2 separate regions of the Homo sapiens genome follow, and region 2 is linked to region 1. Evidence: fine-mapped expression QTL. A gene starts in region 1. The other region holds a variant in brackets. All regions are shown on one strand. Distances are from middle to middle. Region 1 holds the start of SIGLEC10-AS1 (SIGLEC10 antisense RNA 1). Region 2 overlaps LIM2 (lens intrinsic membrane protein 2).

Region 1 (4,381 bases):
AGGGAGAGCCCCCACCCCACTACCCCACCCCCAGCCAGGCCCCCAGGATAGACACAAGCCTGCCCTCTCCTCCTACACAGGGAGCTCTGGAAGGACCAGCTCAACAAGCCCAAGGCCAGGCTGGGCCCCCAGGAGACCCAGAGGACAACTGGGCAAGGTGGGCCGGAGAGTGTGGGGGAAGGCAAAGGAGTTCTGTGAGCTCAGCGTCTGAAGCTCATTTCATGCATCAGGCCCCAGGGCTCAGCTTCCGCCTTCGGCTTCCCCTTCTGCCAAGAGCCCTGAGCCACTCACAGCACGACCAGAGAACAGGCCTGTCTCAGGCAGGCCCTGCGCCTCCTATGCGGAGATGCTACTGCCACTGCTGCTGTCCTCGCTGCTGGGCGGTGAGTGGGCCAAGGGCCGGAAAGGACCTGGGGCGGAGCTAGGGCTGGGGTTGCAGGTTGAGCCTCTGTCTCCCCACAGGGTCCCAGGCTATGGATGGGAGATTCTGGATACGAGTGCAGGAGTCAGTGATGGTGCCGGAGGGCCTGTGCATCTCTGTGCCCTGCTCTTTCTCCTACCCCCGACAGGACTGGACAGGGTCTACCCCAGCTTATGGCTACTGGTTCAAAGCAGTGACTGAGACAACCAAGGGTGCTCCTGTGGCCACAAACCACCAGAGTCGAGAGGTGGAAATGAGCACCCGGGGCCGATTCCAGCTCACTGGGGATCCCGCCAAGGGGAACTGCTCCTTGGTGATCAGAGACGCGCAGATGCAGGATGAGTCACAGTACTTCTTTCGGGTGGAGAGAGGAAGCTATGTGAGATATAATTTCATGAACGATGGGTTCTTTCTAAAAGTAACAGGTATGGAATGGGGTGGGAACCCCTGCCTCTCACACTGGGGAGGGACCCTGGGGACAGCCTATGGGCTGAGCAGAGAGGGCTCTCAGGGACCCCTGCAGCACAAGAATCTCCCACCACGGTCTCTGTCCCAGCCCTGACTCAGAAGCCTGATGTCTACATCCCCGAGACCCTGGAGCCCGGGCAGCCGGTGACGGTCATCTGTGTGTTTAACTGGGCCTTTGAGGAATGTCCACCCCCTTCTTTCTCCTGGACGGGGGCTGCCCTCTCCTCCCAAGGAACCAAACCAACGACCTCCCACTTCTCAGTGCTCAGCTTCACGCCCAGACCCCAGGACCACAACACCGACCTCACCTGCCATGTGGACTTCTCCAGAAAGGGTGTGAGCGCACAGAGGACCGTCCGACTCCGTGTGGCCTGTGAGTGTGGCCTGGGAGGGTGGGGTGTGCAGACAGCCCCGGTGGGTGGGGAGGTGGAGGAGCCCAGTGGGACAGTGAGCGGCTCCCAGCTCAGGAGCATCCAGGGAGAGGAAGCTGTGGGGTCCCAGGATGCCGCCGCAGCCCTGGGAGGGGGATGGGAATGGCGTCTGGTCCACACACGTGAGCCCTGGCGCTGGTTGTCACTTGTCTTCCCGGGATAGTCCCACTTTCTTTTCCCTGAGGGAGTTTTTTCCAGGTGTGAGGAATAAATTGTCCCTCCCTGAAGCCAGCTCACAATCTTGTTGCAGATGCCCCCAGAGACCTTGTTATCAGCATTTCACGTGACAACACGCCAGGTACTGAGGGCCGTCGGGCTGGGGCTGGGCCAGTTGTCTTTAGATGAAAAGGCTTCAGGGGATGAGGGGATGTGCTCCTCCCTGTACCCCTTCTCTCTTTCTCCCTCCCTTTCTCTCTTTTTTTTTTTTCCTCCCACTCCAGCCCTGGAGCCCCAGCCCCAGGGAAATGTCCCATACCTGGAAGCCCAAAAAGGCCAGTTCCTGCGGCTCCTCTGTGCTGCTGACAGCCAGCCCCCTGCCACACTGAGCTGGGTCCTGCAGAACAGAGTCCTCTCCTCGTCCCATCCCTGGGGCCCTAGACCCCTGGGGCTGGAGCTGCCCGGGGTGAAGGCTGGGGATTCAGGGCGCTACACCTGCCGAGCGGAGAACAGGCTTGGCTCCCAGCAGCGAGCCCTGGACCTCTCTGTGCAGTGTGAGTGTGCCCAGCAGGGGCCTGGAGTCCATTGGGAGGGCAGAGGGATACAGGGGCTGGGCTCAGGGTCCCAGAGCTGAGGGGGCCTGGAGCCCCAGGCCTCGGAGACCGACCTTCTTACCTGTGTAGACCCTCATGCAGTTTGTGTCTGGGACTCAGTGGGTGATTCTGCCCTGCCCTTCTATCCCACCCACTTCCCCCACCTCAGTGTCCAGGATGGTTCCCTTTACCCAGAGGGAAGCCCCTGGTCCGTCTAGAGCCGGTCCCCTGTCTCCATTTCAGATCCTCCAGAGAACCTGAGAGTGATGGTTTCCCAAGCAAACAGGACAGGTAGGAAAGGGGACAGAGGAGCCAAGGCCTCTCAGTGCCGAATTGGGGGCCCAGGAGTCTGGAGGGTCCCCACGCAGGAGGGTCCCTGAGCCCTGAGCTGCTCATCGATTCTGCCTCTTCCTTCCCTAGTCCTGGAAAACCTTGGGAACGGCACGTCTCTCCCAGTACTGGAGGGCCAAAGCCTGTGCCTGGTCTGTGTCACACACAGCAGCCCCCCAGCCAGGCTGAGCTGGACCCAGAGGGGACAGGTTCTGAGCCCCTCCCAGCCCTCAGACCCCGGGGTCCTGGAGCTGCCTCGGGTTCAAGTGGAGCACGAAGGAGAGTTCACCTGCCACGCTCGGCACCCACTGGGCTCCCAGCACGTCTCTCTCAGCCTCTCCGTGCACTGTGAGTGGGGGAAAGGGGACACCTGGGTCCCAGGAAGGGGACCCTGCTGAGTCCTGTCCTCCCTCCCCTCAGACTCCCCGAAGCTGCTGGGCCCCTCCTGCTCCTGGGAGGCTGAGGGTCTGCACTGCAGCTGCTCCTCCCAGGCCAGCCCGGCCCCCTCTCTGCGCTGGTGGCTTGGGGAGGAGCTGCTGGAGGGGAACAGCAGCCAGGACTCCTTCGAGGTCACCCCCAGCTCAGCCGGGCCCTGGGCCAACAGCTCCCTGAGCCTCCATGGAGGGCTCAGCTCCGGCCTCAGGCTCCGCTGTGAGGCCTGGAACGTCCATGGGGCCCAGAGTGGATCCATCCTGCAGCTGCCAGGTTAGGGGGCCGCCTGGATGCCAAGGTTCTTGGAGGAGAAGCTGACTGGGGCAAAGAGTAGGGTCCTGTGGTTGGAGCAGGAGCTTGGAGGGACACAGCAGACCCGTGGCATCTGTATGTAGACAGGAAAACACAATGGGAAGTCCTAACACCTGGGCCGGGGTGTGGCAGGGTTTCCTAAAAGTAAACAGAGGGGTTGCAGATACAATGTCCGCCATGGGAACCGGAAGCCTTAATGCCGAGTGATGAGCGGGCTTCGTGAGCCCTGCGTGGATGGGAAATGCTCACCTTGCCCTCTCCGTGTGCAGATAAGAAGGGACTCATCTCAACGGCATTCTCCAACGGAGCGTTTCTGGGAATCGGCATCACGGCTCTTCTTTTCCTCTGCCTGGCCCTGATCATGTAGGTTAAGAGGAGGCGTGGCGGGGTCTGGGGCCTGGACCCAGGAAGAGGGGAGGTGTTGCAGGCCGAAAGAGTGAAGGTCGTGATCAACGCAGTATACCTCTGGAGGTTACATGAGTAAACAGCAAACTGTTCTCATAAATGCAGAATGTTGTCCAACTGACAAACTGCGTCTGCTTCCCAGAGGGAATGCTGAGGGCAGTCACGCCCCAAGCGAAGTGTTTCTTGTAATTAGGCACAGCTGAAGCTTGTTAGTAATAATATGAACCTGTGATCAATTAAACAGCTGACCAATTGTTACCTCCTGCTCTCTGCTCTTTCTACCCAATAAATACAAAGGGCTGTAGAGGCTCAGACAGCTGCCCTGGCTCACTAGTAGCAGGGAACCCTCTTCTTCTTCCCCTGACCCCTTCCTTTAAAATAATTTCTTTTGTCTTAAGTTTTCATTTCTACGTTTGTCCTCCTTCTTTCAGTCTCATAATGACGGTCTCAAGTGGTAACAGTAGTAACTGTCATAGTGACGGTCTCAGGTAGTAAACGTGGCAGTCTGTCACAGGGAGGTGCAGCAGGGCACAAACAGGTGGGTTCATTTCCTCAGCATGAAGATTCTACCGAAGAGACGGACTCAGACAGAAACCCCGAGGCCCAGGTTCTCCCGGCACAGCACGATCCTGGATTACATCAATGTGGTCCCGACGGCTGGCCCCCTGGTGAGTGTCTGGGCCATGCTTCCACTTTTTCTCTTCTCTAAAGCTGACATCCCACTTTCTGACTTTTGCACCCCTTGTCTTAGCGACATCAAGGTGGGAAAAGCACCGATAGTTCTGAATTCAAATCCTGCCTGGCACTTACTAGCTATGAGACCTCAGCCACGT
Region 2 (4,381 bases), 33 kb after region 1:
TTGCCCAGGCTTGTTTCAAACTCCCGGCTTCAGATGGACGTGGTGGCTCAGCCTGGAATCCCAGCACTTCGGGAGGCTGAGGTAGGAGGATCACTTGAGCCTAGGTGTTTGAGACCAGCCTGTGCAACGTAAGGAGACCCCATCTCAACAAAAAATAAAAAATTAGCTGGGCGTGGTGGTGTGCTCCCGTGGCCCCAGCTGCTCAGAAGGCTGAAGTGGGAGGATCACTTGAGCCCAGAAGTTTAAGGCTGCAGTGAGCTAAGATAGAGCCACTGCACTCCAGCCTGGGTGACAGAGCAAGACCCTGTCTCAAAAAATAATAATAAGATAAAATAAATAATCAAAAAGAAACCCTCCTGGCCTCAAGCAATCCTCCTGCCTCGGCCTCCCAAAGTGCTGGGATTCCAGGCCTGAGCCGCTGTGACCAGCCTGAATTAGTGTGCTAGGGATGCCATAAAAAAGCCCCACAGACTGGGTGGCTTGAACAACAGAAACGTGTTGTCTCACAGTTCTGGAGGCCGAGATGAAGATGTGGGCAAAATCAGTTCCTTCTGAGGGCTGTGAGGGAGAATCTGTTCCATGTCCCTCCCTCCCTGGCTTCTGGTGATTTTCTGGGAATCTTTGGTGTTTCTTGGTTTGGAGATGCATCACCCCAATTTCTACCTTCCTCACACATGGCATTTTTCCTAAAAGCATGTCTGTGTCCAGATTCCTCTTTTTATAAGGACGGCAGTCTTTGTTTTATGTTTTGTTTTGTTTTTGAGTTGGAGTCTCGCTCTGCCACCCAGGCTGGAGGGCAGTGGAATGATCTTGGCTCACTGCAACCTCCACCTCCCGGGTTCAAGTGATTCTCCTGCCTCAGCCTCCTGAGTAGCTGGGATTACAGGTGCCCACCACCAAGCCTGGCTAATTTTTGTATTTTTAGTAGAGACAGGGTTTCTCCATTTTGGCTAGGCTGGTCTCAAACTCCTGACCTCAGGTGATCCACCTGCCTTGGCTTCCCAAAGTGCTGGGATTACACTGGGCAGGAGCCACCACACCCAGCCCAGTCTTTGGATTAGAGCCCCACCCTACTCTAGCATGATCTCGTCTTAACTAATTATATTTGCAAAGACTCTATTGCCAAATAAGTTACCATTCTAAGGCACTAGTTACAATTTCAACATAAACATTTGAGGCGGGGGACAGAAAGGCATAACCCATAAAATCCATGGAGAAACAGCCAGGAATTTCTCTCACCGAGGCTTCTACAAGGCAGAAGACTGGGTTTTACAAAGATCCTAGACTTTTTACTTTTCAATGGCAAGATGCAAGGTTTGAGGTGCACCATTTCCCAGGTGCTCCAGCAGACAGAATAGCCAAGCAGTTAGGAGCGTGGGCCTTGGAGCTTGGATTCTGACTCCAGCCCTGTTTCTAATTATGAGACTTCGGGCAAGTCACTTTACCTCTCTGGGCCTCCATTTCTTCACTTGAAAAAGAAGCATAAAAATGGTACTTATAGAGTAGGGCTCTGGAGGAATAAACAACATCACACCTGGGTAGCGAGCCTGGCATATAGTTAGCCGTTGCTAAAGGATGAAGAGATTATTATTATCTTTCCTGAGGGGCCATCCCTGGGCAAAGCACAAGAGAAGAATGGCCCCGGTGCTCAACATTAATTCATTTCACGCATTTATTGGGCACCTATTATGCACCAGGTGTAGGTGCTGGGGACACAGTGGTGAATGAGA[A/C]AGCAAGGTGCTTGTCCTTGAGAGCTAAGGATTTACTGAGGAGAGACAGACATTATAAATAAGTTAAAAACAAGTAAATAGGACATTTTCAGATATAAGCAAGTAGTATAAAATAAATGAAAGAGTAGGCTGGGCGCAGTGGCTCACACCTGTAATCTCAGCACTTTGGGAGGCCAAGGCAGGTGGATCACTTGGGGCCAGGAGTTTGAGACCAGCCTGGCCAACATGGCAAAATGCCGTCTCTACTAAAAATACAAAAATTATCCGGGCATGGTGGTGCGCACCTGTAGTCCCAGCTACTCGGGACCCTGAGGAAGGAGAATCGTTTGAACCTCAGAGGTGGAGGCTGCAGTGAGCTGAGATTGTGCCACAGCACTTCAGCCTGGGTGGCAGAGGAAGACTCGGTCTCAAAAAAAAAAAAAAAAAAAAAAAAAGAAAAGAAAAAAAAAGAAATGTGAGAGAGAATAGTAATTAGTAGGAAAATATAAGGAATCAGCATTCATTCATTCATTCATTCAACAAACATTTCCCAAGGCCAGAATGCAAACCAAATGTGTGGTGGGGGTGTTTATGACACAGAACCAACCCACCGCCTGTCTTCAAGGAGCAATCAGGCTGGAGGGGGAGACAGACAAAGAGAGTCACAACCCTTAGCCGTGGGTGAAGATGATGACTGAGGGGTGGGGAGATGCTTCCTAGAGGATGGGTCACGGGAGCTGTGCTTTGGAGGATGAGTAGGAGTTTGCCAGGTGAAGAAGAGGGCATTTGCAAAGAAGGGAAGGATGAGCTGGGTTAGGGATATGGAAAGGGGCAAGGCATTTTCATCTCAGAGGTAGCAGCATCTCTCACTTAGAGCAGGGGAGGTGTGGGAATGACCATGGGGTGCTCCCACAGCATACTGGAATGCCACCCGGGCCTTCATGATCCTGTCTGCCCTATGCGCCATCTCCGGCATCATCATGGGCATCATGGCCTTCGCTCATCAGCCTACCTTCTCCCGCATCTCCCGGCCCTTCTCTGCTGGCATCATGTTTTTTTCCTCAAGTGAGTAAGCCCACCCTCTCCCTACCCCTCTCCTCGCTCTCATCTCAAACCCCAATCTGTCCCCACCCCTCAACACCATTCTCACCCCTTACTCCTCCTCACACTCAACCCCACCCCACCCTAATCCCATCCCCACACTCAAAACCAACCTCATGACTATTTCTAGTTCCAGTCTATTCTGACACTAGCTGGTGTACTACAGTTCAGTTCTGGCATGAATCACCTAAAATTTGTGTTTGACTCCACAGGTTAAGACCACAGTCCCTAGCAAGACTGCTTCCACCTCAGCTACAAGCTGCAAGCAGGGTGCCTGGGCCACCCATGCTTTTGATCCACTGGCTACAAACTAGGAGGTTCCCAAGACCCACTCAGATTCAAAAATTTGCTGGAGGCCGGGTGCGATGGCTCACGCCCGTAATTCCAGCACTTTGGGAGGCCGAGGCAGGTGGATCACTAGGTCAGGAGTTTGAGACTAGCCTGGCCAACATGGCGAAACCCCATCTCTACTAAAAATACAAAACAAAATTAGCCAGGCGTGGTGTCGGGCGCCTGTGGTCCCAGCTACTTGGGAGGCTGAGGCAGGAGAATGGCATGAACTCAGGAGGCGGAGCTTGCAGTGAGCTGGGATTGTGCCACTGCACTCCAGCCTGGGCGACAGAGCGAGACTCTGTCTCAACAAAAACAACAACAACAATAACAACAACAAAAATTGCTGGAATAACTCATAGAATGCAGGAAAGTGCTATACTTACAGTTATAGTTTCCTTATAGAGGACACAACTCAGGTCCAAGCAAATGAAGAGACACAGAGGGCAGAGTCTAGGAGAGCCCAAAATGCAGAGCTTCCAAGCCTTCTTCCTGTGGAGCCAGGGATCACCCTCCCAGCACACAGATGTTTTCACCAATAGGGAGCGCCACTGAGCTTCAGTGTCCAGAGGTTTTATTGGAGTCTTGTAAAATAGGCATGACTGATTGAATCGTTGGTCATTGATGGAATGCAGTTTCCAACTTCCTTTCTTCCCTGATATCAAGTGGTTCAGAGCCTCAACATATCATGGTCGGTCTTTCTTTCTTTCTTTTTTGTTCTCCTTTTTTGAGATGGAGTCTCACTCTGTCACCCAGGCTGGAGTGTAGTGGCTCGATCTCAGCTCACTGCAACCTCCACCTCCCCTCCCGGGTTCAAGTGATTCTCCTGCCTCAGCCTCCTGAGTAGCTGGGATTACAGGCACCCACCACCACACCCAGCTAATTTTTTTTTATTGTATTTTTAGTAGAGACGGGGTTTCACCATGTTGACCAGGCTGATCTTGATCTCCTGACCTCAAGTGATCCACCCTACTCAGCCTCCCAAAGTGTTGGGATGACACGCATGAGTCACTGTGCCTGACCTGGTTGGTTTTTCTGACAACCACACCCAACCCTGAGTCATCTCATCTCATTACCATAAACTCAGGTTGGGCCCAAGAGGCTCAAGAATAACAAAGACCCTCCTATTACTCAGGAAGTTCCAAATATTGTTTCTCCCTCCCAGGAACCAGAGACAATGGCCAATTACATTATAAAACACAAGCGTGTCCAACCCCATCCCAAACCTATCCCCCAATCAT

What was found. PIP is the estimated chance that this variant, and not a neighbour inherited with it, causes the effect. A credible set is the group of variants that fine-mapping cannot tell apart.
Region 2: its variant is the best candidate, but not a certain one, in a credible set for the expression of SIGLEC10-AS1 in whole blood (INTERVAL, PIP 0.89).

Annotation. Positions count from the first base shown.
Region 1 is chr19:51,413,547-51,417,927 of GRCh38, reverse strand. SIGLEC10-AS1 (SIGLEC10 antisense RNA 1) reads right to left here and starts at 2,204. Exons shown (of 3, transcript NR_164125.1): 1 at 1,796-2,204; 2 at 1,198-1,499; 3 at 1-796. SIGLEC10 (sialic acid binding Ig like lectin 10) reads left to right here and starts at 286. Exons shown (of 11, transcript NM_033130.5): 1 at 286-383; 2 at 463-846; 3 at 978-1,262; 4 at 1,571-1,618; 5 at 1,761-2,030; 6 at 2,313-2,360; 7 at 2,490-2,747; 8 at 2,820-3,104; 9 at 3,413-3,506; 10 at 4,105-4,216. The coding sequence starts at 347. RefSeq lists enhancers at 57-126, 187-356.
Region 2 is chr19:51,380,811-51,385,191 of GRCh38, reverse strand. It overlaps LIM2 (lens intrinsic membrane protein 2), which reads left to right. Exons shown (of 5, transcript NM_001161748.2): 3 at 2,625-2,774. Among named protein-coding and RNA genes, the nearest start is that of LIM2-AS1, 4.1 kb to the left of the region's middle. The variant A/C (reference allele first, on the strand shown) is at 1,731.